2 linked regions of the Homo sapiens genome follow. The protein of the gene in region 1 interacts with the protein of each later gene in a biochemical or structural test. Each region holds a gene or a part of one and is shown on either strand. Other genes may lie near its edges.

Region 1 (11,520 bases):
AAATACTAGAAGACCAAGTCAAGGGCAGGGTCATAGTAGGGAACCTTGTAGCTGGTCATTCTGCTTATCTCTTACTAGTTCAACAGTGGTTCTGTTGATTTTTGTGACATTTTTACGTAAATAATTGGCCCTTCTAGAAATAATGATATATTTGTCAGTTCCTTTTTAATCTTTTTACCTTTTTTTCCCTGAAATTTGTCTTATGTAAATTTGATAAGTTTTAGTGCTACTTTTCTCATTTCTACCAAGTTTTTGTACTTGCAAAGCCAGTATATTTATTTATTTGAGACAGTCTCGCTCTGTCACCCAGGCTGGAGTGCAGTGGTGCGATCTTGGCTCACTGCACCATCAGTCTCCCAGGTTCAAATGATTCTCTTGCCTCAGCCTCCTAAGTAGCTGGGACTACAGGTGCACGCTACCACACCCGGCTAATTTTTGTATTTGTAGTAGAGATGGGTTTCACCATGTTGGCCAGGCTGGTCTTGAATTCCTGACCTCAAGTGATCCACCCACCTCGTCCTCTCAAAGTGCTGGGATTACAGGCATGAGCCACCACAACTGGCACCAGTATTTATTTTAAGAATTCTGTTTTTTAAATTAACACACACTAGAGTTAATTTTTTGGGGGGGGGGCATGTTCTGCATGTACAGCTCTATTCATGTTAACATATCTATAGATTTGTCTAACCACCACCACACTCAGGATGCAGAATCGCTGTCACACTGAAAAACTCCCTTATGCTATCCCTTTTGAGTCGTATCTTTCTGCTACCCCTAAACCCTGGCACCTACTGGTCTTTTCTGTCACTAAACTTTTGGTTTTTTGGAAATGTCATATAAATAGAGTTATACAGTAAGTATGTAGTCTTTCAGATTGGCCTCTTTAACTTGGCATATAGCATTTTTGATTCATCCAATTGGTTACATGTATCAGCAGTTCATTCCTCTTTATTGCTGAGTAGTAGTCCATTGTATCACAATTTGTTTATCTCCAATATTGCTTTTAAAACACAAAATTCAACTAATGCGACTGATTATGCAGAACTTCTAATTCTACCCTTATAGAATCTGCAAGAGGCAGTGATAGTGAAGATGAAGTTTTACGAATGAAACGCAAGAATGCGATTGCATCTGATTCAGAAGCGGATAGTGACACTGAGGTGCCAAAAGGTATCCCTATTATTATATATATATGTATATTTCCATACCTCTTTCTGTATTTAACTGTAGTGCATTTCTAACCCTGAGTGTGTTTACCCCAGATCGCCAGACCCACAGAATAAGAGTGTGGATACGCTCAGTGTACTCAGAGAAGTTATATAGCTATGAGAAGCTGCTCATGCTTAATTAGTTGAAGAAGAACCTGCCTCTTTGTAGTTTTTTTTTTTTTTTTTAAGAGACAGAGTCTTGCTCTGTCACCCACGCTGGAGTGCAGTGGTGCAAGCTCAGCTTATTGCAACTGCTGCCTCCTGGGTTCAAGCAATTCTCCTCCCTCAGCCTCCTGGTAGCTGGAATTACAGGAACGTACCACCATGCCTGGCTAAATTTTTTGTATTTTTAGTAGAGGTGGGGTTTCACTATGTTGGCCAGGTTGGTCTCGAACTCCTGATCTCAAGTGTTCCACCCACCTCAGCCTCCCGAAGTGCTGGGATTACAGGCGTGAATCACTGCGCCCAGTCTGTTTATAGTTAGAGTGAATTCATTATTAGGGGGCTGACCTTCTTATTGGGATGGAGGTTACAATGTCCATTCTTCACTTTGAATAATGACAGTCTCGGTGTTTTGTTCCTAAGTTCTTGACTTAGATGAAGAAACTGATTCTTTGAGCTGTGAGTTAGATGAAGAGCTCATAAAAACCCAGTGTTGGCTGGGTGCAGTGGCTCACGCCTGTAATCCCAGCACTTTGGGAGGCCAAGGTGGGTGGATCACTTGAGGCCAGGAGTTCAAGACCAGCTTGGCCAACATGGTGAAGCCCTGTCTGTACTAAAAATACAAAACATTAGCGGGGCGAGGTGGTGTGCATCTGTAGTCCCAGCTACTTGGGAGGCTGAGGCACGAGAATCGCTTGTGCTCGGGAGGCAGAGGTTGCAGTAAGCCAAGGTCGCACCACTGCAGTCCAGCCTGAGCAACAACAGTGAGACTCTGTCTCAAAACAACAACAACAACCGCAACCACCACCACCACCACCACCACCACCACCACCACCTGGTATTATAAGTTGGAAGGATGAAAGGAGTTCTACCGCCAGGTGTGGCAGCTTCCTTTCTCCTGCCTCAGCCTCCCAAGTAGCTGGGATTACAGGCACCTGTCACCAAGCCCAGCTAGTTTTTGTATTTTTAGTAGAGACGGGGTTTCACCATGTTGGTCAGGCTGGTGTCAAACTCCTGACCTTAAGTGATCCACCTGCCTTGGCCTCCCAAAGTGCTGGGATTACAGGCATGAACCACTATGCCTGGACTGTAATTTTGAATCTGGGATAGACTTATGGAAAATGGGTGTCTGTGGAGTGCTTCAGCCCCAACTTTGAGCATCTAGACTGTAGGAAACATTTGGGCTCCTGGGGAATAAAGGAAAGTGGGAGAACAAGGATGGTGAAAATGAAAGGAGAAATAAGTGCCTCCTGTGCAGCTTGCCTTTCACTAGATTTGCCCCCTTCCCTCTCCCCACACTCTCTGGTTGGGTCTTTGAGAGCCAGGCTCAGCATTATGTTTTTGGTGGTTTTCTGATGCTGGTCCAGAAACCTTGGGAATGTGTTGAAGTGATCAGCTGTGAAGAACCTTAGTTACAGATAGTAACACTAATGCCTTTTTCCTTCTGCATTGAAGATAATAGTGGAACCATGGATTTATTTGGAGGTGCAGATGATATCTCTTCAGGGAGTGATGGAGAAGACAAACCACCTACTCCAGGACAGCCTGTTGTAAGTCAGTTAGTAACATGAACTTATTCAAGGCCAGGCATAAAGTTTCAAAGGTGAAGAGTCTCCCTTATTCCAGGAAAGGAAGTTGATAACTGAATTCTAGTATGAAAATACCATGAACAGATGACTTTCTTCATTATGTAGGGAACTCTTGGTTATAAGGGGGAGTGGAAATAACTGCCAAACATGAGGTTGGTGTCATGCCTTAGGGGACTGAACTGTGAGGACTTGTGATTTGAGAACCATTGACTTGAATGTTTTTCTTGCTCATGCCAAGAAGTGTCTGCTATGTTGATAATCTTCTCTGGTTTTAATTGATAGAGTGACTTCCTATTGAAGTGTTAATTTCACACTTTTGTTGAGTATTTGGAAGACAGATTTATCATAAAGGAGATAGTTTTTTGTACTGAGGTATCCAAATTGATCGTTTCCCATTTTGTGTGTAGGTGGGTTGGGATGGGGACTGGGGACTTCTTTAGTCCTAAAGTGATATCTAATTATGTTTCTTGCACCCCAGAGTAATTAAAGTGTGGAGGTTGAAGGAAGCCATTTCTAAGGTCCTGTCAAGCTCCAAACTTCCGATTCTTTCACTAGGATGAAAATGGATTGCCTCAGGATCAACAGGAAGAGGAGCCAATTCCTGAGACCAGAATAGAAGTAGAAATACCCAAAGTAAACACTGATTTAGGAAACGACTTATATTTTGTTAAACTGCCCAACTTTCTCAGTGTAGAGCCCAGGTAAGGAAATCAATTAAAATTTTTTCAGGATGTTGAGTAGAAATACATAGAATGTTTATTTTTCTTATTTCGCATTGAGTTGACAAATCACAAAAACGGAAAATTGATCGTGTATCTCTGAAAAAATTAGTCAAGCACATCCTGAGATAGAAAAAATATGTATTAGTAAGGGAGGCTTTTAATGCTATGATTGTTTTTAGCAGTTTGATACTTTCTTATGAATTAACAGACACCACAAGTGTTCAAGGTATTTTTTTAATTAGTACAACCCTGAAAAGGCTGAAATTGAAAGCGATGAAATTTGCTAGAGAAATGCCAGTGTCCACTGTAGCAGCTATTGTTGGTCTAGAAAAGGTAATGGTTTTGGACAATTAGACAGTGTTTGATGGGTATTATTTACTAAGTTTACTCGAGCTCTTGTGCTTTTAAAATTTTTTTTCCACAGGCACAATGATGTGGAAAGCTAGAGCATATGTTGCCTATTCTTTGGCAGAGTTACATAAGAAGAAGAAAGGATATTTTGAATATTTACCCTTGCTTGTACTTTATTTCAAGCAATATGTATTAACAACAAATTTTAAGAAGTAAAATTACTGGCCGGGTGTGGTGGTTCACACCTATAATCCCAGCACTTTGGGAGGCCGAGGAGGGCGGATCACCTGAGGTCAGGAGTCTGAGACCAGCCTGACCAACATGGAGAAACACCCTGTCTCTACTAAAAATACAAAATTAGCCAGGCATGGTGGCGCATTCCTGTAATCCCAGCTACTCGGGAGGCTGAGGCAGGAGAATCGCTTGAACCTGGGAGGCGGAGGTTGTGGTGAGCCGAGATCGTGCCATTGCACTCCAGCCTGGGCAACAAGAGCAAAGCTCGGTCTCAAAAAAAAAAAAAAAGAAAAAAGTACAATTACTACTTCCTTGAAGTTAAGCATGAAGATATTGATCATTATGATTTTTAAAATTATATTATGATTTTTTGATATAATGGTGTTTATTAATAGAGATGTTATTACATAGCAGTAATATTCTTTATAAAATATGATTAATAGTTTATTTGGAAAACAATTTGTAGACCTTTTGATCCTCAGTATTATGAAGATGAATTTGAAGATGAAGAAATGCTGGATGAAGAAGGTAGAACCAGGTTAAAATTAAAGGTACCATTTCATGCTTTTTCCTTTTTTTTCTTTTATAAAGTAAAACCTGGAGATACTAACTTGAAACTTGAGCTTTTGAAAGTGATTTTTTTACCTAACACTTCACTATATGGCTGTGTTCTTTTGATTGCTTTTGTTGACTATTAGGAAAGAATTTTATTGTACTAAATTCCCATTAATGCTTCTCTTTGATACCTTATACCATCTGGTCACGCTATCAAAGGAGGGCCTCTAATCTTTTAAGTAAGGAGGATGTAGGTTCAGCAGAAGTTTCATCTTTTTATTTTGAGACACGGTCTTGCTCTGTTGTTCAGGATGGAGTACAGCGGCACAAACCCAGCTCTTGGCAGCCTCAATTTCCTGGGTTCAAGTGATCTTCCCATCTCAGCCTCCTGAGTAGCTGGGACTACAGAAAACATGCCACCATGCCCAGCCTTTTTTTTTTTTCTGTAGATATGAGGTCTTGCTGTGTTGCCCAGGTTGATCTTGAACTTCTGAGCTCAAGTGATCCTCCCGCCTTGACCTCCCAAATTGCTGGGATTACAGGCATGATTGCTACTGCACTTGGCCAAGTAGACATTTTAGAATTGAGTTGCACAAGGGAACAAGAGGTGGTTGAATGCATGATACTGAAACTGGAATTATGCATTTTCAATTCTTAAATCCGAAGGATTTCCTGTAAATTTCTTATTTTCTAGTGGGTATTTATATATTTTTTTTTGAGAAGGAGCATCGCTGTGTCGCCCACGCTGGAGGGCAGTGGCATGATCTCAGCTCACTGCAACCTCTGCCTCCTGGGTTCAAGTGATTCTCCTGCCTCAGCCTCCCAAGTAGCTGAGACTACAGGCATGCACCACCATGCCCAGCTAATTTTTGTATTTTTAGTAGAGACAGGGTTTCACGATGTTGGCCAGGTTGGTCTCGAACTCCTGACCTCAGGTGATCCACCCACCTCGGCCTCCCAAAGAGCTGGGATTACAGGTGTGAGCCACCGCGCCTGGCCTTGGTACCTTATTAAATTGTTAGAAAGGGATAGTCTGGCATTTTTTAGGCACTGAATTTTTATATTTTTAATAGTACCATCTCTTCAATGTGGTATATTAACAACTACCTAAATAACCTTGATATAAGATGGTTTCTATCCAAAAGCTTTTCAGTGAGACTTCACTACTCCTCTTAATGGAAATGCAAATCAAATAAGAAAACTGAGATAAACAGGTGCTAATAATTTGTTCAAGATCACACAGTCAACAGATATACTGCTTACACTATTTTTTTTTCCTGTCCTCCCTCCACCACCCATCTACTCATCTGTTTATTAGCCCATCTGTTAATATTATTTCTTTGGGACACATGGATGTATTGATTTAGGCTTAGCAGTATCAATTTTTCATGGTTGTTTTAGTGCCTCTGGCTTTAATTCTACTACTTTTCATTGTTTCCTGTCATATACATATAAACTAATATAGTAGTTCCTTATTCACTTTTTATCAATTTATTTAATTTTGTCTTTTTCCTTTTTCTTACTTTCTGTCATGATGCTACAGCTAGTATCAATATATCTATTATATTTTTAGACCATGTGATACCAGATTCTAGTATGGGTGTCAGACTTCAAAGGCCGGGCATGGTGCCGCATATCTGTAATTCCAGTACCTTGGGAGGCCGAGGTGAGAAGACTGGCCAGGAGTTTCAGACCAGCCTGAGCAACAGAGCAAGACCTTGTCTCTACTAAAAATAAAAAAAAATTAGCCAGCAGAGATGGCGCATGCCCATAGTCACAGCTACTCCAGGAGGCTGAGGCGGGAGGATTGCTTGAGCCCAGGAGTTTGAGGCTGCAGTGAGCTGTGATTGTGCCATTGCACTCCAGCCTGTGCAGCACAGCGAGACCCTGTCTCCCCCCCAAAAAAAAATTTATAAATATGTATTTTACCCTAAAATTTCAGTGCATCAGACTACAAAATGTTGGTGTTTAACATAAACTGTTGTCTTAAAACCTTGGTGTGTGATAGGAAATAACCCTGGACCCTTATTTTCTTGAGTGATGTTTAAGACTACGCTGACCAGTCTTAAAGCATGGTGTAGTTAATTCTTTAAGAACAAGGAACCAGGGAACCAGGTACAGCTTATGTACCTCTCTGAGGTCCCCTGTCTTCAGAAATACTATTATGTGTCCTTCATCCTGATAGGTTAAGACCTAGCAATGTGTCCTATTATAGCATCATTACTATTTGAATCACTTTATATAATAGAAAGCATTTTTTAGAACGGCTTCTCAATTAATAATGGCCTATTTGTGGTTTTTTTTTTTTTTTTTTTGAGATGGAGTCTTGCTCTGTCGTCGCCCAGGCTGGAATGCAGTGGCGCAATCTCAGCTCACTGCAACCCCCGCCTCCCGGGTTCAAGCAATTCTCCAGCCTCAGCCTCCCGAGTAGCTGGAATTACAGGCACATGCCACCATGCCCGGGTAATTTTTGTATATTTTTAGCAGAGATGGGGTTTCACTGTGTTGGCCAGGTAGGTCTTGAACTCCTGACCTCAGGTGATCTGCCTGCCTCGGCCTCCCAAAGTGCTGGGATTACAGGTGTGAGCCCTGCACCCGGCATATTTGTGTATTTATATGTGGCCAACCTATTGTATGAGATGGAAGACAGGAATAGTGACAGATTGTTTTGTTTTCAATCTGAAAATTTCAAACATACACCAATGTATTAAAAACAATATAATGAACTCTTTCATGTGCCCATGACCCACTTCAACAGTTGTCGAGTTAACAATCTTTTGTCATCTACATATTCCCCACCCCAGCTTCCCCAGACTATTCTGAAACAAATTTCAGGTATGACATCATGTTTAATTCATAAATATGATGGAGTTATTCAATCAGCACACTTTATAGCTATTTGTGAGGAATAAATAGGGAAAGGGGAAAAACTGGAAGGGGGAATCATTAGGACCCAGCTGCACAGACATTTGCAGCTAAAGGAGTGGAGATCCAGACGATCTCCGTGGGACTGGGAGCAGCTGTGTTTAGGATTGACACTGGGGGAACAGGCAGAGGGAAGCATGGTCTTGGCATTGGCAGTTTTCACATTGTTGGCTTCTGTCTGTTGCCAGCTTCATTCTCATTCTTTCTATCCTTGTATGTCCTGTTTTTACTCTTCATTGTCATTTTAGTGGGTTTCCAGGAGGCAGCAGTGATAAACTGCATGCGTTTAGTATGCCATGTTTTCCTGGAGATCCCACTGACTTTACTTTCAGTAACAGTGGTTTTCATTTGCCAACTCTGGTGTTTCCCCACCATGCAGGTAAGATAGTTAGGCTCTAAACCTATTGAAATCTGGGGTTTTCATTTTCATAGGGCACTTATTTATCCTTATTCATATATGGGAAGTTTATCTCTCTGTGCCAATAGGCAGAGTTTTTGGTCTCATTTTTATGGAGTTTTTAGCTCTGTGAGAGAACTTGCTTTATACAGGGGTTTCACTTCAAAATTTCTTCCTCGGCCGGGCGTGGTGGCTCACGCCTGTAATCCCAGCACTTTGGGAGGCCCAGGCGGGCGGATTATGAGGTCAGGAGATCGAGACCATCCTGGCTAACACGGTGAAACCCTGTCTCTACTAAAAAATATGAAAAAATTAGCCGGGCTTGGAGGTGGGCGCCTGTAATCCCAGCTACTGAGAAGGCGGAGGCAGGAGAATGGCGTGAACCCGGGAGGCGGAGCTTGCAGTGAGCCAAGACTGCGCCACTGCACTCCAGCCTGGACGACAGAGCAAGACTCCGTCTCAAAAAAAAAAAAAAAAAAAAATTTCTGCCTCACATGGACTCAAGTTTTATCGCCTGACCCTTGTAATTCTTACTGTCTTAACACATCTCGGGGTTAGTGTACATTTAGTATCTGCCATCTGCTCAAATGCTCTAAGCTTTCTCTATGATTATGATTCTAGGAGCTCAGAAATTCACTTAAGCATATTTTTTTCCCTGCTTTTAATTTATCCAACCTCTCTAGGTGATTAAAGAGGGTTTCAGTGTTGTTCATTCTCCTGCCACACATACATCTGTCACCTCTGTATGCTTATTCTGTGATTATGTGCCTCTTGAGGAAAAACAAGATGCATAGAGTCATTTAAACTATAATTTTCTAAAGTACTTGTGTTGTGAAACAGGTAGAAAATACTATAAGATGGAGGATACGCCGAGATGAAGAAGGAAATGAAATTAAAGAAAGCAATGCTCGGATAGTCAAGTGGTCAGATGGAAGGTGAGCACAAAACGCCTGAAGGGTATTGACATACCCAGAACGGGTCAGAGGGATCAAGTTTTGAAATACTTTTTAGTTTTAAATTTATTATTAGTTTTAGAAATGGGGTCTCACTCTGTTGCCCATGTTGGAGTGTAATGACATGATAACAGCTCAGTGGAGCCTCAGACTCCTAGTCCTAAGTGATCCTCCCATCTCCCAAGTAGCTGGGACTACTTGGTGTGCACCACCCTGCATGGATTATTAAAAAAAAAAAAGAGCCAGGCACGGTGGCTCACGCCTGTAATCCCAGCACTTTGGGAGGCCGAGGTGGGTGGATCACGAGGTCAGGAGTTCAAGACCAGCCTGGCCAAGATGGTGAAACCCCATCTTTACTAAAAATTAGCTGGGTGTGATGGCGGACGCCTGTAATCCCAGCTACTCAGGAGGCTGAGGCAGAGAATTCCTTGAACCCAGGAGGCGGAGGTTGCAGTAAGCCGAGATCGCGCCACTGCACTCCAGCCTGGGCAACAGAACTAGATGCCGTCTCAAAAAAAAAAAAAAGAAAAAATTTCATAGACACAGTTCTCCATATGTTGCTTAGGCTGGTCTTGAACTCCTGGGCTCAAGCGATCCTCCCATCTCCCAAGTGCTGGGATTACAGGCGTCAACCACCGTGCCCAGCCACAAATTGACATTTTAAAAAAATTGCCCTTCACTGGGAATGTAGTAGAGCCTGGTAAACATCCCAGCATGTGTTAGTTCTTTGTAGTCCATCAGTTTTTCTCATTATGACTTCTTATTTTCGTTCCTTCCAAATTCTGTGTAAAAAGAGAGAGCAGCAGTTGAATCACCTGTTTTGTTTTGTTTTTTTTTTTCCTTGAGATGGAGTCTTGTCCTGTCGCCCAGGCTGGAGTGCAGTGGCACGATCTTGGCTCACTGCAACCTCCACTTCCCGGGTTCAAGCAGTTATCCTGTCTCAGCCTCCCGAAGGCTGGGACTACAGGGGTGTGCCTCCATGCCTAGCTGATTTTTGTATTTTTACCAGAGATGGGGTTTCACCATGTTGACCAGCCTTGTCTCAAACTCCTGACCTCGTGATCCACCTGCCTTGGTGTCCCAAAGTGCTGGGATTACACATGTGGGCCACTGTGCCCAGCCTGAATCACCTTTAAGTGAAGTAAGATGGTAGAGTGAAAGCTTTATGACTTTAATAGATGAAATGTTTCTCTTTCCAGCATGTCCCTGCATTTAGGCAATGAAGTGTTTGATGTGTACAAAGCCCCACTGCAGGGCGACCACAATCATCTTTTTATAAGACAAGGTACTGGTCTACAGGGACAAGCAGTCTTTAAAACGAAACTCACCTTCAGGTAACTGTTATTATTATTATGTATTATTTCTTATGGTAAAAGCAGTGAAACATAGATGTTTCTGTAATGCCTGCCACCTGATTGATGTAACCCCACGGTATGATTCAGCAAGAACCAAGATCTTGTGCATAGTTCTGAAGGTTCAAAGGTTATTTTGTCAAATACACTAAAAGTTGCTGTTTCTTAGGGAACCAGGTCATGCTAACCAGACTTACAAGAGACTGTTAGGTAAACCAGAATGTCAATGTATTTAATTCCAGTGGTTATTATAACTGCCAAGAGGCCTAAAATACGTGTGTCTGCTAGCCAGTGTGTCCTTTGTTTTTAGTAAAATTGACCTGGGAGACTAATAACTAGAGGTTGTTGTTGTGCATGCAATCGAAGGAAAGCCAGCAAGTTGGTCAGTGTGAGACGGGCCATCTCAGTGCCGTAGGCCCCGGCATCTAATACCACTGCAGAGGTGTGTCCCCCAAGAGGACAGGAATACTCAGCTGGTGAGGGCACTTTCCTTCTCTAGACTGAGTATGTGCTGCACTGAGATGTTCATGCTTCTCTTTCTTGATTATAAGCAGACCATCCTCTTTGGGTAATGCTTATCTTTAGAGGGGGCACAATAATGTTGGTTATGATTTAGCTTTTTGAAATTATAAAGGTTAACATACAGGCTTTGGAATCAGTTAGACTCATATTTGAATTCCATTTCTACTTGTGTGACCTTGTGCCACTTTCTTAACCTCTTTTTGCCTCAGTTTCCTAAATCTATAAAATAGGATAATTATATTAATATTAATATATTAATATTAATTAAAAGTAATGGCAAAAACCGCAATTACTTTTGCACCAACCTGTAGTATCTAATTAATGTTGCTTGAGCGTATCCATTTATTGCTTCTAGAAGGTGATCATGCCATACAATCTTTTTTACTCCAACCTTCTGTTTTTCATTTGTGGAATAAGAATGTCTCAGTGAGCCACAGAATGAAGAAAACTCACAATCTTCCACCTTGGTATATTCAGTCGAGTGTCTCTGCCTATTTTTTCAGGTGACTAGGAAATGGTCACTGGGCTCTTACTTCTGTGACGTGGGTAT
Region 2 (11,323 bases), on another chromosome or scaffold:
TTTTAGTAGAGGTGAGATCTCACTATGTTGCCTCCCTATGGTGTTTGATCTTGAACTCCTGAGCTCAAGCAATCCTCCCACCTCAGCCTTCCAAAATGCTGGGATCACAGGTGTGAGCCACCATGCCCGGCCAAAGAATTTTTAAAAATCATAATCATACAAAGTATTTCTTTAACTATAATGTGATGAAGCTAGATATAAATAACAGAAGGAAAAAGTAATTTCACAATTATGTTCAAATAATACATTCACACAACTTCAAAAAGAAATCAGAAAATAGAACAATATTTTGAGACAAATGAAAACAAAGCTACGATATACCAAAATTTATGAAATGCAGTGAAAACAGTGCTCAGAGGGAAATTTATAGCTCAAAAAGAATAATCTCCGCCAGGTGCAGTGGCTCATGGCTGTAATCCCAGCACTTTGAGAGGCTGAGGCGGGTGGATCACCTGAGGTCGGGAGTTCGAGACCAGCCTGACCAACATGGAGAAACCCCGTCTCTACTAAAAATACAAAATTAGCTGGACGTGGTGGCACGTGCCTATAATCCCAGCTACTTGGGAGGCTGAGGCAGGAGAATTGCTTGAACCCGGGAGGTGGAGGTTGCAGTGAGCAGAGATCACGCCATTGCACTCCAGCCTGGGCAACAAGAGTGAAACTCCGTCTCAAAAAAAAAAAAAGAAGAAAAATCTGACATTAATTACCTAACTTTATGGCTTAAGGAATTGGAAAAAGAGAAGAAAAGTAAACTGCAAAATGTCAGAAGGAAATAATAAAGATTAATTAGAGACAAAAGAAAAGATTAGGGCAGGGAACCATGGCTCATCCCTGTAATCCCAGCACTTTGGGAGGCCAAGGTGGGAGGATCTCTTGAGCCCAAGACATTGAGGCTGTAGTGAGGTATGATTGTGCCACTGCACTCCACCTGAGTGACAGAGCAAAACCCTGTCTCAATAAAATAAAAATTAATAAAATATAATATAAATAAATAACAAAATAAAATACCAAGAATAATTTTAGCCAATGAGGTGAATTTAGCCAAGAGTTGCACACTGAAAATTATGTTATATTGCTTAAAGAAATTAAAATAGATCTAAATAAATGGAAAGATATCCCGTTGTAATGAATTGATAGACTTAATGTTGTTAAAATGGCAATGGTCAATCTTCATGACCTTGGATTTGCAACTCTTTCTGAGATTTGACACCAAAAGCACAAGTAACAAAAGCAATATATGAATTGGACTTTGGTAAAATATAAAGTTTGTGCATGAAAGGTCAATATCAAGAGACTGAAAAGAGGCTGGGCGAGGTGGCCTACATCTGGAATCCCAGCACTTTGGAAGGCCGAGGCGAGAGGATTGCTTGAGTTCAGGAGTTTGAGACCAGCCGGGGCAACATAGTAAGACCCTCTCTCTACAAATAATCCAGAAGTAGCTGGGCATGGTGGTGTGTGCCTGTAGTCCCAGCTACTCAGGAGGCAGAGGCAAGAGATTTGCTTGAACCCAAAAAGTGGAGGCTGCAATGAGCTGTGATCACGCCACAGGACTCAGCTTGGGCGACTGTGAGACCCTGTCTCAAAAAAAAAAAAAAAAAAAGACTGAAAAGATAACCCACAAAATGGGAAGGGAGACAATGATTGAAAAGCATATTTATCTCAAGGCTCTAGAGTCCAGAATTATATAAGAACGTTTACAACTTAACAACATAAACACAACTCAGTTAAAAATTGGGCAAAAGACTAGAATAGACATTTCTCTAAAGAAACCATAGAAGGCCGGGGGAGGTGGCTCATACTTGTAATCCCAGCACTTTGAGAGGCCGACGTGGGTGGATCACCTGAGGTCAGGAGTTCCAGACCAGCCTGGCCAACATGGTGAAGCCCCATCTCTGCTAAAAGTGCGAAAATTAGCCGGGGGTGTTGGTGCTCCCCAGGAATCCCAGCTACTTAGGAGGCTGAGGTGGGAGAATTGCTTGAATCCGGGAGGTGGAGGCTACAGTGAGCTGAGATTGTGCCACTGTAATCCAGCCTGGACTGTTGTCACTCTGTTAGTGAGACCCCATCTCAAAAAAAAAAAAAAAAGAAACCACAGAAATGGCCAACAAGCACATGAAAACATGCTTAACATATTAGGAAAATGCCAATCAAAGACACAATGAGATACCATTTCATACCTCATCAGATAATTAGAATTCTAAAAATGAACTAAACAGGCTGGGCACAGTGTGTCACTCCTGTAATCTCAGCACTTTGGGAGGCCAAGGTGGGCAGATCACCTGAGGTCAGGAGTTCAAGACCAGTCTGGCCAACATGGTGAAACCCAGTCTCTACTAAAAATACAAACCATTCGCTAGGCATGGTGGCAGGCACCTGTAATCCCAGCTACTCCGGAGGCTGAGGCAGGAGAATCACTTGAATCTGGGAGGTCGAGGTTCCAGTGAGCTGAGGTCACGCTATTGCACTCCAGCCTGGGCAATAAGAGCGAAACACTGTATCAAAAAAGAAATAATAAAAATAAAAATAAAGGACAACAACAATTGTTGACAAAGATACAGAGAAGTTCGAGCCCAATGACGTTTCCGATGGGTATGTAAAAATGTTGCAGTTGCTGTGGAAAACAGATGGACAGTTCCTCGAATTTAAATGTAGAATTACCATGAAACCCAACAATTCTACTCCTAGGTTCACACCCAAAAGAACTGAAAACAGGTGTTCCCACAAAACTTTGTACAGGCATGTTCATAGCTGCACTATTCACAAGAGTGAAAATGTGGAGTAGTGAAAGGTGGGTGGAAACAATGCTTATGTCCATCATGTGATGAATGAATTTTAAAAATGTTATCTATAGGAAATGCATATTATTCAGCCATAAAAAGGAATGAAGTACTGACACGGCTACAACACAGGTGAACCTTGAAAACATGCTAAGTGAAAGAAGCCAGTCAGAAAAGGTCACATATTCTAGGATTCTATTTATTAAATATATAAAATGTTCAGAATATTCAAGAGTATAGAGGCAGCCAATTAGTGGTTGCCAAGGGTTGAGGGGAGAAAGGAATCAGGAGTGACTGCTTAATTGATACTGGGTTTCTTTTTGAGGTGATGAACATTTTTGGAAAACTTTTGGGAACTATCGAGTGGTGATGGTGGCACTATATTGTTATCATTAGAAATGCCACTGAATTGTACACTTTTTTATTTTATATTTACTTATTTATTTATGTTTGAGACGGAACCTTGCTCTGTCACCCAGGCTGGAGTGCAGTGGCGCCATCTCAGCTCACTGCAACCTCTACCTCCTGGGTTTAAGCGATTCTCCTGCCTCAGCCTCCCGAGTAGCTGGGATCACAGGCGGCCACCACCAGGACCAGCTAATTTTTGTATTTTTAGTAGAGACGGGGTTTCACTATGTTGGCCAGGCTGTTCTCGAACTCCTGACTTCAGGTGATCCGCCCACCTTGGCCTCCCAAAGTGTTGGGATTACAGGTGTGAGCCACTGCGCCCAGCCAGAGATCTTTATGTTTAAACATAGGTATCTACAGCTATACATTTCCATCTGAGTGTTGCCTTTGCTGTATCCCATGCACACTGGGTATGCACACACCAGGCCTTTACACTTTAAAATAGCTAAAACAGGCCAGGTGAGGTGGCTCACACCTGCAATCCCAGCACTTTGGGAGGCCGAGGTGGGCAGATCACCTGAAGTCAGGAGTTTGAGAACACCCTGCCTAACATAGTAAAATCCCATCTCTACTAAAAATACAAAAATTACCAGGGCGTGGTGGTGGGCACCTGTAATCCTAGCTACTTGGGAGGCTGAGGCAGGAGAATTGCCTGAACCTGGGAGGCAAAGGTTGCAGTGAGCCGAGATCACGCCACTGCACTCCAGCCTGGGTGATAGGCCGAGACTCCGTCTAAAAAAAAATAAAAAATAAAATAAAATGAATTAAAATCTAAAAAAATAGTTAAAAATGGTCTTAGACAAGGTAGCATGAAAAAAGAAGAAAAGTAGTTAAATGGATAAATTTTGTGTTATGTGTATTTTAAAGAAAAACATCAACTGATTCTTTGGGAAAAAAGAAAAATGACAGAATTATTACAATAAATGTACAAATCCACATTATAAAGGGAAATTTTTACATACTCATTAATTGAGGCATGAAGCAGACAGCAAACAGGGATGTAAATATTGCAACATTTTCTGTAGAAAACAATTTTTTTCTGTGTGTTCTTTTTTAGAACACATAGATATGCATAAAAATTGACGAGATAGGCCGGGCGCAGTGGCTCACGCCTGTAATCCCAGCACTTTGGAAGGCCGAGGTGGGCGGATCACCTGAGGCCAGGAGTTCGAGATCGGCCTGGCCAACATGGTGAAACTTTGTCTCTACTAAAAACACAAAAAATTAGCCGGGTGTGCTGGTGGGCGCCTGTAGTCCCAGCTACTCAGGAGACTGAGGCAGGAAAATCGCTTGAACCTGGGAGGTGGAGGTTGCAGTGAGCCAGCCGAGATGGCACCACTGCACTCCAGCCTGGTCAATAAGAGCAAAACTCCGTGTCAAAAAAAAAAAAAAATTGACAAAATAAATCTCAACAAATACTACAATTTAAGCTGGAAATCAATAATAAAAAGATAATTTAAAAATGAAACAAAATAGGGAAACGATCCCAATACTTCTCCCCCAAATGAGTGAGTCATAACCAGGAAAAACCTGTCATCTCAGTATAGAAAGAACATTATTAGGCGGTGTATTTTGATGAATGATAGTTACGTGGTGTGGGAGTTATACCTGCAAATAGCATGAGTTGGTCGTGAAGGGTTTAAGTGGGGAAAGACTTTTTGGAGGAGCCTGCATTCTCCACTATGAACCCTGTCACAACTTAAGTCACCTTCCTCTCTGATCCTCAGAAGCTGGTGGGATGCCTTGTGTAATTTCTGACCAGAAGGTTTCCGTCAACTGTTCTTCAACTATTCAAAATGCCATGCCCAAGACTGGTTCTTAGTACTCCAGGAGCTCACGAACGATTTCACCTTTATTTATTTTTTATTTTTTTTGAGACGGAGTTTCGCTCTTGTCGCCCAGGCTAGAATGCAATGGCAGTCTCGGCTCACCGCAACTTCCGCCTCCCGGGTTCAAACGATTCTCCTGCCTCAGCCTCCCGAGTGGCTGGGATCACAGGCCATGACGCCCGGCTAATTTTGTATTTTTAGTAGTGACGATGTTTCTCCATGTTGGTCAGGCTGGTCTCGAACTCCTCACCTCAGTTGATCCGCCCGCCTCGGCCTCCCAAAGTGCTGGGATTACAGGCATGAGCCACCGCGCCCGGCCGATTTTTTTTAAAAAAAGGAACGCTTAGCCGGGTGCAGTGGCTCAGGTCTGTAATCGCAGCACTTTGGGAGGCCGAGGCGGGCGGATCACTAGGTCAAGAGATCAAAACCATCCTGGCCAACATGGTGAAACCCTGTCTCTACTAAAAATACAAAAAATTAGCAGGGCGTGGTGGCGGGCGCCTGTAGTCCCAGCTACTCGGGAAACTAAAGCAGGAGAATCGCTTGAACCCGGGGGGGGGAGCTTGCAGTGAGTGGAGATCGCGCCACTGTACTCCAGCCAGGCGACAGAACGAGGCTCCGTCTCAAAAAAAAAGGAACTCTTAAAACGAGTAACTCCGTAACCTAACTTAGAGGACACGGGTTCCATTTTTCCCCGTAGCAGTCTCCTATGGAGAAAGTGCTTGGCTTCCCACAGACTTTAAAACCTGCCAAAGTTCCATGCTCGGAATCTGCCCCCGTTTCGAGATACTTGGGCCTCCGCGAGTTCTAAAACTCCGGGATGTCCCGATGCAATAGGGGGCCGAAAACCCGCCCCGTGAGGGGGCGGGACCGGAGGTGAACGCGCAGCAAAACCGGGCGCCTTCCACGACCCTCTAGCCGGAAGCCACGCCTGCCCACTAGCCCGACGCCCGCCTGGCGGGAACATGGGCTCGCCCCTCACCAGCGATCTGCAGTCAGTTGGTAGCGCCTGCACGTCGCGCGCGGTGTTCGATTGTCGCTGCCTGGGGAGGAGGAGCCGGAGCCGCCGCCGCCGCCGCCGCCGCCGCGGGCTTCGTTCGTAAGGAAGGGGGCCTAGGCCCGGGCCTGCGGTGGTGGGGGTTGCTGCGCGCCGGGGGTCGCTCCTGCTGTGTCTTCCGCTCCAGCTTCGCCCACTTCCCCTTGCCAGCGGGGTGGGCGCGGAGAAGACCTGCCGGAGCCATGGAGGACGAAGTGGTCCGCTTTGCCAAGAAGATGGACAAGATGGTGCAGAAGAAGAACGCGGTGAGCGCGGCGAGCGGCGCGGGCCGGGAGGGAGGCCGGGCCGCGGTCCGGCCCGAGGGGGCCGCCCCCTCCCTCCTTCTCCCTCCCCTCCCCCTGCAGCCTCCCGTCTGGGAGCCGGGCCCGCCGCGCCCGCGTCCCCGGGGAGGGTGTCCGGGCCCGGGGCGTCGGGTCCCGCGGCAACCTGCGTTAGGACCCGCTCGCTCTTGTATTTCCAGTCCCTGCTCGCTGGTGCCGTGTAATAAACCTAATCGATTTAGGGATTAGGGCACGCTCTCCGTTGACTTTAAACTTTCGTGCTAGTAAAACCTTGGCAATTTAGCTTAGGAATTGAAGCGTAGAAAGTCCTCAGAACTTGAAAGAATGGAGTCTTCCGTGATCCGTGGCCAACATCTAGAAAGAGCATCAAATAGAGGCTTGTGATCGGTATTAGACATCGGGCTGGTAAAATGTAAAACTTCTGTGTCTTATTTTTGAAGAGGGCTGAACGTCCGCCTGGTTATCTCAACTGTGCTACATGTTTGCTTAGCGATTAAAAAGGTAAAGTGTGCCAGTTTCTTGGCGAGTTGCTAAACGTTTTATAAAAAGCGGGTTTTGTCCTGTCGTAATGTACAGAAGAGTTAGGACTACAGCACGCACACTCACCGGAATGCTGGTAGAGGGATTTGGACAAATTATATTGTTGGGTATTTTCTAAGTGGTTTACAGTTAATACTGGTGGCATTTTTTTTGTTATTGATGAATATTCATGTAAGCATATGCTTTTGTGGTTTGTAAGAAATCCTCATACGACCAGTTTCTACAGCTTGCCCATTTGTGTGGCACTTTCAGTCCCTTGCTTCAGACTCATCTGTTCTTAGCTAAACATATTTTTTCGAGACGGAGTTTAACTCTTGTTGCACAAGCTGGAGTGCAATGGCTTGATCTCGGCTCACTGCAACCTCCGCCTCTCGGGTTCAAGTGATTCTCCTGCCTCAGCCTCCCGAGTAGCTGGGATTACAGACGTGCGCCACCACGCCTGGCTATTTTTTTGTATTTTTAGTAGAAACGGGGTTTCACCATCTTAACCAGGCTGGTCTCGAACTCCTGACCTCAGGTGATCCGCCCACCTCAGCCTCCCAAAGTGCTGGGATTACAGGCGTGAGGCCACTGCGCCTGGCCTCTCAGGTAAACTTATATAATTGTCCTCACCTAAATTTGTTTAACCACGTTCGGCACATTTTCATCATCAGTGTACCTGAAATAATTTTTCTTCCATCTATGAAGTAAATTCCATGTCAAACTAATGTGAAGAGAAAAGGGATGCTCTGATTTGTACAGCACTTTGGAGTTAAAAAGCATCTGCTCAAAATTCTTTTGTGACTCACACAGAGCTGTGAGTACATAAAGGGTATCCATTTTACAGATTAAGACACTGAGAGAGATTAAGTACTACTACTTAAATTAAGTACTGTGTAGTTTGGAATAAGCCAGGACCCAGGTTTTCTTCTGGACAGCATGCTTTCCACATGACAGCTAGATCAGGAATTAGTGTTAACACTAAATACGTAAGACTTCAAACATCCTCTGTTCCCCTTTTTCCTTTAACAGGTGCATTGCCTCGTATTTCATTTCATACCCTGTTAATCTGTATTTGCAAATTTTGGCCTTTTAAAGTATTTCCTGTTTATTTTCTGTTCTAGATATTACCAGTGCCATTTTTCCTCCCCATTGATATGGCCCTTCATTTCCCACTTCAAATTCTGGTTATTTGATAGGTTATCTGGTTATTGGAACATTTTCGTTATTTTGTTTAAACTGGAAGATTTTTCTCTGGTCTGGAGATCCCCAGACTTGCACAGTAGAAGCTCCCAGGGAAAAAAAGCCATTTGTTGGGTAATGTTCTCTCCAACTTAGGCTGTAATATGTATCCTTTAATCATCTAATGCATTAGATGTTTGCTTGATTTTGTTTCTTTCCTTGTAATAATGTTTCTAAGTAATTTTTTAGTGGGCAGGTGTGGAGAAGATAAATTCATATTTATCTGCAGTTCTCAAATCGTCAACAAATTTTCAGATCTTTTGTAATGAGTCTGGAAGAGAATGAGAATAAACTCCACAAATAATCCTCAAATCTAAGTTTTCTTCTCAAATCTAAGTTTTCAGGTAGTTCAAAACTTTTCCAGTATGAAAACTTGCCTCCCAAAAAGAAAGGTAAAACTGACTGGCTCTTGTACTTTTGTTTTCCCCAGCATTTTCCCTGCCTGTCCTCTGGAAATTCAAACAGGCTGATGAAATACAGAGAAAGAGAAATGGTCAGAATGACACTCCTCTTTTCCCCAACTGCATCATCAGCCTACAGATGGCTTTTTAAGTGTTCAGTAATTCAACAAAATGTGTTTTAGGGGTTGTAGAATTATGGTATATGTGTTTCTCTTTTTTTCGGTAGTTTTCAGATTTTTCTCTCAGCTTTTTTAATGTTTTATATTATGAAAAAGTTAACTTTTTTTTTTTTTTTTTGAGACAGTGTCACTCTGTTACCCAGGCTAGAGTGCAGTGGTGCAATCTCGGCTCACTGCAACCTCCGCCTCCCCAGTTCAAGCGATTCTCTTGCCTCAGCCTCCCTAGAAGCTGGGACTACAGGTGTGCACCACCATGCCTGGCTAATTTTCGTATTTTTAGTAGAGATGGGATTTCAACGTATTGGCCAGGCTGGTCTTGAACTCCTGATCTCAGGTGATCTGCCCGTCCTGGCCTCCCAGAGTGCTGGGATTACAGATGTGAGCCACTGCGCCCAGCCTGAAAAAGTTAACTTTGAAGAGTAATAGTTGTCATCAGAATTGACAAATTTAAGTGCAAATTTAGATATCATTTAAAAAAATATTTTAACATGCTGCTGCTTTACCTGAATAATTTTGTTTTACTAAAACCATAGGTGTCACACTTAACTAAAAACAGCTTACCATTTATTGAGCTATTACTCTGAGCCAGGTATTCTGCTAAATACTTACCCACCTTATCCCATTTATTCCTCAGGCAACTTTGCAAGATGAGTATTATCCTCATTCTGAAAATGAGGATGCTAAGTATTTAGAATAGTCTTAAGCCAAATAGCTAGTGAATGGCCAAGTGAAGATGTGAATCTAAATCTGTTTTGCTCCAAAGCTAGTACTCCTCTCTTAAGCTACAGTGTCTCTCTAGAAGACCCTTGCATCTGCTCTTGAACCATGCATGGATACAATTAAGTGAATACAAAATCAGGAAGTAAGAGTATGAACTTGCTGTTTTGGGGCAGGTGTGTTTCCCTAGTTACCTAGATCAATATCCTGACCCTAGTTCTACCCAAGATGTTGTCCCACATGTGTACTTGATCTCAAGTGCACATGACCAAGCCACAGTGAACCACAGAAAGTAGTTCGAAATTTTTAGGTATTAGCTGTTTTCTGCTTAAGCTGTTTTCTTGTCACTTTGATTCGGTGTCAGTAACCAAGTCTGACTGCTAATGTGGGTTCAAATCCTGGCTTTTCTGAACTTTTCTGAACTTTAGCTGTGTGATTTTAGGCAAGTTCTTTGTCATCACTAAAATGTTTCTCGTCATGGTAAACTGGAGATAATTTAGTAAGGATTAAGTGAATATAAAATGCTTCTAGTGTAGGATTGTGGGCCTAAAGGATGTAATAAGGCCTAAAAAACAATCTGAGGTTGCCTTTCTTTGTAAAGGATTCATTTAGATTATAGAAGGAGGAGTGAGGCAAGGACATAAAGTTTTGAAGTTCATGGAGAGATTTTGTGGGTAGTGCTGAGGTTTATTTATTTATTTCATTGAAGGCTCAAGGTTGAGTGGAATTAAATTGCAGGGAGAGAAATTGAAATTAGATGTTAGAATTTCGTAGGAGCTGGGATACCTGAAATATTGATTTACATTTCCAAGTACCTCAGTTAAAATAACAACTGCAACAAAACTTTGATATCTATATCAGAGTTAGATTAATTAGCATAATTCAAAATTTAGAATGACTATACAATTTTTAATAACAGCTTTATCGAGAAATAGAATTAAATTCATTCTTAAAGTGTAGTTGACTCTTGAACAATGCAAGGGTTGTGGTGCTCACACTATCCCCCCTCCCTACCCGCATGCAGTCAAGTAGTATAACTTTTGTAGTAGTATAACTCATGCAGTCATGTCACTCAGGCTGGAGTGTGGTGGCATGATCTTGGCTCACTGCAACCTCCGCCTCCTGGGTTTAAGCAGCTCTCCCACCTCAGCTTCCCGAGTAGCTGGGACTACAAGTGCGTGCCACCACACCCAACTAATTTTGTATTTTTAGTAGAGATGGGATTTTACCATTTTTCTCAGGCTGGTCTCCACATCCTGACCTCAAGTGATTCACCTGCCTCGGCCTCCCAAATTGCTGGGATTACAGGCGTGAGCCACTGAGCCCAGCCTTTTTTGGGTATTTTTTATAGAGATGGGGTTTCACCATATTGCCCAGGCTGATCTAGAACTCCTGAACTCAAGTGATCTGCCTGCCTTGGCCTCCCAAAATGTTGGGATTATAGGCACTTAGCCTGGGTGACAGAGCGAGACAATGTCTCAAAAAAGAAAAGAAAAGAAATAAAGGAGAGAAAATATGTTTACTGTTCATGAAGTGGAAATGTGTCGTCGTAAAGGTCTTCATCCTCTTTGTCTTCACATTGAATAAGCTGAGGAGAAAGGAAGAGTTGGTTTTGTCATCTAGGGTTGCAGAGGTGAAAGAAAATTCTCAGGTGAATCTGTGCAGTTTAAACCCATGTTATTTGAGGGTCAACTGTTAATTCAGTGGCTTTTAGTGTATTTACGGGTTTGTGCAACTATTACTACTGTATAATTTTAGAACATTTTCATCACTCCAAAAAGAAACCCTGTACCTATTAAGCAGTCACTCCTCATTCAGCCCTCATTTGCCCCCACCAATTTCTCACACGCCTCTGACAGCCACTAATATACTTTCTGTCTGTGTGTTTGCCAAATCTGGAAATTTTCTGTCAG

Evidence for each region.
Region 2: the proteins of LEO1 (region 1) and TCEA1 form a complex in vitro, tested with the Homo sapiens proteins (2 studies listed by BioGRID and IntAct).

What each region holds. Positions count from the first base shown.
Region 1 is NC_000015.10:51,952,039-51,963,558, reverse strand, and holds part of LEO1 (RNA polymerase-associated protein LEO1), read left to right. Parts: intron 1-1,065; coding exon 1,066-1,170; intron 1,171-2,825; coding exon 2,826-2,920; intron 2,921-3,514; coding exon 3,515-3,660; intron 3,661-4,732; coding exon 4,733-4,817; intron 4,818-8,983; coding exon 8,984-9,078; intron 9,079-10,295; coding exon 10,296-10,430; intron 10,431-11,520. UniProt on the Homo sapiens protein: Component of the PAF1 complex (PAF1C) which has multiple functions during transcription by RNA polymerase II and is implicated in regulation of development and maintenance of embryonic stem cell pluripotency.
Region 2 is NC_000008.11:54,017,056-54,028,378, reverse strand, and holds the start of TCEA1 (transcription elongation factor A protein 1), read left to right. Parts: upstream 1-5,930; 5' UTR 5,931-6,253; coding exon 6,254-6,316; exon of another isoform or gene 6,317-6,346; intron 6,347-11,323.